Regions from separate parts of the Homo sapiens genome. Here region 1 is linked to region 2. Evidence: fine-mapped expression QTL. A gene starts in region 2. The other region holds a variant in brackets. All regions are shown on one strand. Distances are between the middles of the regions.

Region 1 (2,812 bases), 24 kb after region 2:
ACTGAAAAACAAAATAGAAAACTTCTCATAAAGTACTGAGACATTTTGATGAGGATTAAAACACACATTATGGGCCAGGCATGGGGGACCATAATGTAATCCCAGCATGTTGGGAGGCTGAGATGGGCAGATCACCTGAGGTCAGGAGTTCAAGACCAGCCTGACCAACATGGAGAAACCCATCTCTACTAAAAATACAAAATTAGCTGGGCGGGGGCGGCGCATGCCTGTAATCCCAGCTACAGGCTGGGAGGCTGAGGCAGGAGAATCGCTTGAACCCAGGAGGCAGAGGTTGCGGCGAGCCGAGATCGCGCCATTGCACTCCAGCCTGGGCAACAAGAGCGAAACTCTCTCTCAAAAAAAAAAAACCACACACACATTATGTGCCTATGCTGTAAAAGAGCCCATTGTCCCCCAGTTGTCAATATAACCACAATGGGAATGAACAATGTCTTCTTGGCAGTGAGGACAATTCCTGTACAAAGGAAACTGAGTTTGTACATAATTGACTTAAAATTTTTTCTAACCATTTATTAAGAAAAAATTTAACATACAGAAAAATTGATCAGATACCCACCACTTAGCTTCAACTACTATCAATTTCACTTCTCTCTCTGTGTTTTATTTTATTATTTTGTTTTATTTTTTTTTTTGGAGACAGGGTCTTCTCCTGTCACCAAGGCTGAATGAAATGCAGTGGCACAACACAGCTCACTGCAGCCTCAATCTCCTGGGCTAAGTGATCCTCCCACCTCAGCCTCCCAAGTAGCTGGGACCACAGGTACATGCCACCATGCCCGGTGAATTTTTTATTTTCATTTTTTCTTTTTTCTTTCTTTTTTTTTTTTTTTTTTTAACATTTTTTGTAGAGATGGGGTCTTTCCATGTTGCCCAGGCTTGTCTTGAACTCCTAGGCTCAAGGGATCCTCCCATCTTAGCCTTCCAAAGGGTTGTAACTACAGATGTGAGCCACTGTGTCTGACCTCTTACTTTTAATTTTATTTATTATTATTTTTTGAGACACGGTCTCACTTTGTCACCCAGGCTGGAGTGCAGTGGCATGATCTTGGCTCACTGCAGCCTTGACTTCCTGGGATCAAGCAATTCTTCTGCCTCAGTTCCCCAAGGAGCTGGGACTACAGGCACGTGCTACCACATCTGGCTTATTTTTTGTAGAGATGATGTTTCACCATGTGGCGCAGGCTGGTCTC[A/G]AGCTCCTGAGCTCAAGTGATCTGCCTGCCTTGATCTCCCAAAGTGCTAGAATTACAGCATGAACCACCATGCCTAGGTCTTTATTTTTAGTTTTTTGAAACAGGGTCTCTGTTACCCAGGCTGGAGTGCAGTAGTGTGATCACGGCTCACTGCAGCCTCCATCTCCTGGGCTCAAGCCATCCTCCCATCTCAGCCTCTTGAGTAGCTGGGACTACAGTTGTTTGCCACCAGGCCTAGATAATAAAAAAAAAATTTTGTGGAGATGGAGTCTCACTATGTTGCCCAGGCTGGTCTTGAACTCCTAGGCTCAAGCAATCCTTCTGCCTTGGGCTCCCCATGTGCTGGGATTACAAATGTGAGCCACTGCATCTGGCCTTTATTTCTATTTTTGAGAGAGAGTTTTGCTCTGTCACCCAGGCTGGAGTGCCATGGCATGAACACAGCTCACTGCAACCTCGAACTCCTGGGCTCCAGCGATCCTCCTGCCTCAGCCTCCTGAGTAGCTAGGACTACAGGCACGCACTACTATGCCTGGCTAATTAAAAAAAAAAATTTAAGAGGCAAGGTCTCTCTATATTGCCTAGACTAGTCTTAAACTCCTGGCCTCAAGCTGCCTTCCCAAGCAATCCTCCCACCTCAGCTTCCGAAAGTGTTGAAATTACAGGTATGAGCCACCACACCCGGCCACTCTCTCTCTCTTCTCTAAACAATGTGAAAATAAGTTCAAACATCATGTCATGTTACCTCCAAGTACTTCAGCCTCATCTCCTAAAAAAATTCTCCTACCAGACTAAAACTTCATTATCATACCTAAGAAGATCAATAACAATTTCCAAATGTCCATCTGATATTCAAATTTCCCTGCTTTTAAAAAAATCTTTACGGCCGGGCGCGGCGGCTCAAGCCTGTAGTCCCAGCACTTTGGGAGGCCGAGGCGGGCGGATCATGAGGTCAGGAGATCGAGACCATCCTGGCTAACACGGTGAAACCCTGTGTCTACTAAAAATACAAAAATTAGCCGGGCGTAGTGGCGGGCGCCTGTAGTCCCAGCTGCTCGGGAGGCTGAGGCAGGAGAATGGCGTGAACCTGGGAGGCGGAGCTTGCAGTGAGCTGAGATTGCGCCACTGCACTCCAGCCTGGGCGACAGAGCCAGACTCCGTCTCAAAAAAAAAAAAAAAATCTTTTATACTTGTTTTTTTCAAATCGTACATCTTACAAAGATTTACAAATTGCATTTGGTTTATTGTTTTTTAAATCCTTTAAAATACAGATCCCCATGTATCTACACACATACACCTTTTTTTGTGACATTGATTCTTTGGAGAATGCAGGTGTTATCTTTTTTTTTTGGAGACGGAGTCTCGCTCTGTCACCGAGGCTGGAGTGCAGTGGCGCGATCTCGGCTCACTGCAACCTCACCTCTCGGGTTCAAGCAACTCTCCTGCCTCAGTCTCCTGAGTAGCTGGGACTACAGGTGCACACTGCCATGCCCGGCTAATTTTTTGTATTTTAGTAGGGACGGGGTTTCACTGTGTTGCCCAGGCTGGTCTCGAACTCCTGAGCTCAGGCAATCCGCCCACCTCGGCCTCCCAAAGTGCTA
Region 2 (2,812 bases):
ATAAATATTACATATAGTACATAGATAAAATGTATCTACCGCTTGCCTAGCTCTGTGAGGTACACTTCTTGGCCCTTCCCCACAGCTCCGACATATTCTCCCAAGCCTTCAAGGTCCTTCAATATTGTTATTAGAGGCTGGGCACGGTGGCTCACGCCTGTAATCCCAGCACTTTGGGAGGCCGAGGCAGGTGGATCACGAGGTCAGAAAATCCAGACCACCCTAGTCAACACGGTAAAACCCCGTCTCTACTAATACACACACACAAAAAATTTGTCGGGCGTGGTGGCACGCGCCTGTAGTCCCAGCTACTTGGGAGGCTGAGGCAGAATAGCTTGAACCTGGGAGGCAGAGGTTGCGGTCAGCCGAGATTGCGCCACTGCACTCCAGCCTTGGCTACAGAACAAGATTCGGTCGAAATATATACATGTATATTGTTATTAGAGGGCTATGTGGAAGTAGCTATTAAACACGAGGGCTTTGAAGCTAGAATTCCAAACCCTTCTGCAAAGGTGTGCTCTCAGTTAACATCCTTTATCTGTAAGAGGGAAATCAAAATTATTTGATAATGTCTTGAGGAGTAAATGAAGCAATGCATATAAACTGTTTAGCCCAGACCGGTCTGAAAATACATATTGAATAATTTATTCTTATTTTGCCCATTATATAATATGCCAAAGTAAGTGATTACGGTGTGTTTTCCCCGACTATGTTGCCTAGGCTGGCCTCGAACTACTTGGACGAAGCGATCCTCAGCCTCCTGAGTAACTGGGACCACAGGCCGGCGCCACCCTAGCTTTAATTAAGGCCGTTTTGTTGTTGTTATTCCCCTGCTCCACACAAGGGGCGCTGCCGCTCCAAGGCTGCCAGGGCGGGAGTCAGGATGGCGGAAGTCTGTCTAGCCACGACCACCGCCATCATGGAATACAGGCCCACCTCACCCCGCGGGTGTAGCCGCTTCGTACTGTCGCTTAGGCCGACCCGCTCGCAGCGACAACCAGCCCTCTACCTCTTTTCGCTCTCCCTTAAGTAATAAACCGTCTTTCCTTATGACGAGTCTTAAACTCTTTGGGAGGAATAATGCCGGCGTCTTCCGGAACCCGACCTCGCCCCGTGACCTCAGAGGTATACTTCCGGGACACGGAAGTGACCCCCGTCGCTCCGCCCCCTCCCACTCTCTCTTTCCGGTGTGGAGTCTGGAGACGACGTGCAGGTAGGAGGCCCGGGCGCGACAATCGGGGGGCATCCTGCGGCGAGGGGACCCTGTGGGGCTTGGGACGAGAGACGGGGGTCTTTCCGTGGGAACCGAGCTAGGTGCCGGGCAAGAGACGCGCGGCTGGCCCACCTGGATCCTGGCCAACTCGGGATTGAGTTCGTTCCTGGTCTCAGAAGGCCCGTTTTGCTTTCAGGGAGGAGCTTGTGAAGTAAGGGTGAGTGCGGGTCCAGCCTTTTAAGGCCTCGGCCCCGCAATACGGCCACGGCCACGGCCGCGTTTGAGCTGCACAGCGTAGTTGAGGGAACCCGGGACAGACGTGGGCTCCCGCCTCTACCTCGCCAAACTTTTTTCTTGGTGATCGCAGGCCCACGCCTAATCTCGTTTGTTTCCTCGTTTGCAAAATAGGAATAACAATAGCACCGATCCCATGGGTTTGTAGTGATCATTCAAAGAAGGAAAGCAGGGAAAACTCTCGCACTATGTTGGATGCTTCTAAATCTGGGCGATTCTTTCCGTTGCTGAGTCGGGCACGTTGCAAGTTCTGGGCGCTCAGGGCCCAGCACCAATGTTTGCTGTGCGCTTGCCCTGCGTTTATATACTCCTGATGACCACTCTGCTCGTTACTTTAGGGGATGTTAGGAACGGAGAAACTGCAAATTGGCATTTACTGAATGGCCATCATGCCGAAACATACTCATGCTTACGTATTTGAGATATGCTGGAGCCTTTCTATGCTTCTCGAGGCAGAACTTTGGGCTTCTCTCCTGTGGCGCGTTCCTTACAATAGTTAACGCACTGGGTCGTGCTCATTGGTCTGATTTGAAGATAGGAACATTTAACTTCGTACACCCAAGACTTACACTTGAAGTACTTACTGTGGTCACACACTTAACTAAAGTTTATATAGGGAAGGCAGAGGAGAGATCTAGGAACACCTGAGACAGACTAGGGTAGTTATTTGTGGTGTAGAGGCATCTTGGCAGGAGGCAGAGAGTGCTGGGCTGGGAGTCAGGACACGTTGTTTCTATGTTTGGTTTTGCCACTGTCTTTACTGTGACCATAGGCTGAGACACTCTCTATCTTCACCATCTGCAGGATATCGATTAGTGTTAGTGTCTTCTGAAAATGTTAAATTGTTCTGAACACCAGGAGGTTCAGAAGGCCTGGGGCTTTAGGCCGGAAGCAGTCTTATCCTAGCCTTCCACTTTCTCATTCATTCTCACCCGCCTTCCTCCTGTCAGTTTCTCTCTCCCTTAGATCTTGTGACAGTATGATTGCAATTATTATGAAGGTCATAATAGGTTAGAGTTATTTAGTCTCAGGACCCATCAGATTTCTGAGATGGGTCTTTTCCATTAGCCTGCCTTTTGGATATATTTTAGTGCCTTTGATATTTGATGTTGGTGACAAAGATTTAGTTCTAAATAGTTGTGGGAGTCAAATCAGTTGCATTTTTGAACATTTTGAAGGGATCAGGTGGAGCACAGGAAAACAGGAGATGAGAGGCTTGAGGGCTGTGTTGGTAAGGGTCCCTTGAATTCTAAGCTGAGGAGTTCATGCAGGAATCAAGCAGCTCCCTCGCCCCATGAAGGGTGT

Direction of the effects. Alleles are on the strand shown, and positions count from the first base shown. SD is a standard deviation of normalised expression in the study named.
For the expression in thyroid of the gene that starts at base 1,177 in region 2, allele G in region 1 goes with a lower level than allele A (small effect, 0.18 SD a copy in GTEx).

The links. PIP is the estimated chance that this variant, and not a neighbour inherited with it, causes the effect.
Region 1: its variant is the best candidate, but not a certain one, in a credible set for the expression of RPS14 in thyroid (GTEx, PIP 0.52).

Annotation. Positions count from the first base shown.
Region 1 is chr5:150,423,967-150,426,778 of GRCh38, reverse strand. It overlaps LOC124901106 (a long non-coding RNA gene), which reads right to left. Exons shown (of 2, transcript XR_007058994.1): 2 at 2,434-2,812. Among named protein-coding and RNA genes, the nearest start is that of CD74, 12 kb to the right of the region's middle. The variant A/G (reference allele first, on the strand shown) is at 1,212.
Region 2 is chr5:150,448,104-150,450,915 of GRCh38, reverse strand. It overlaps RPS14 (ribosomal protein S14), which reads left to right and starts at 1,177. Exons shown (of 5, transcript NM_005617.4): 1 at 1,177-1,213. RefSeq lists enhancers at 789-1,108, 722-1,660.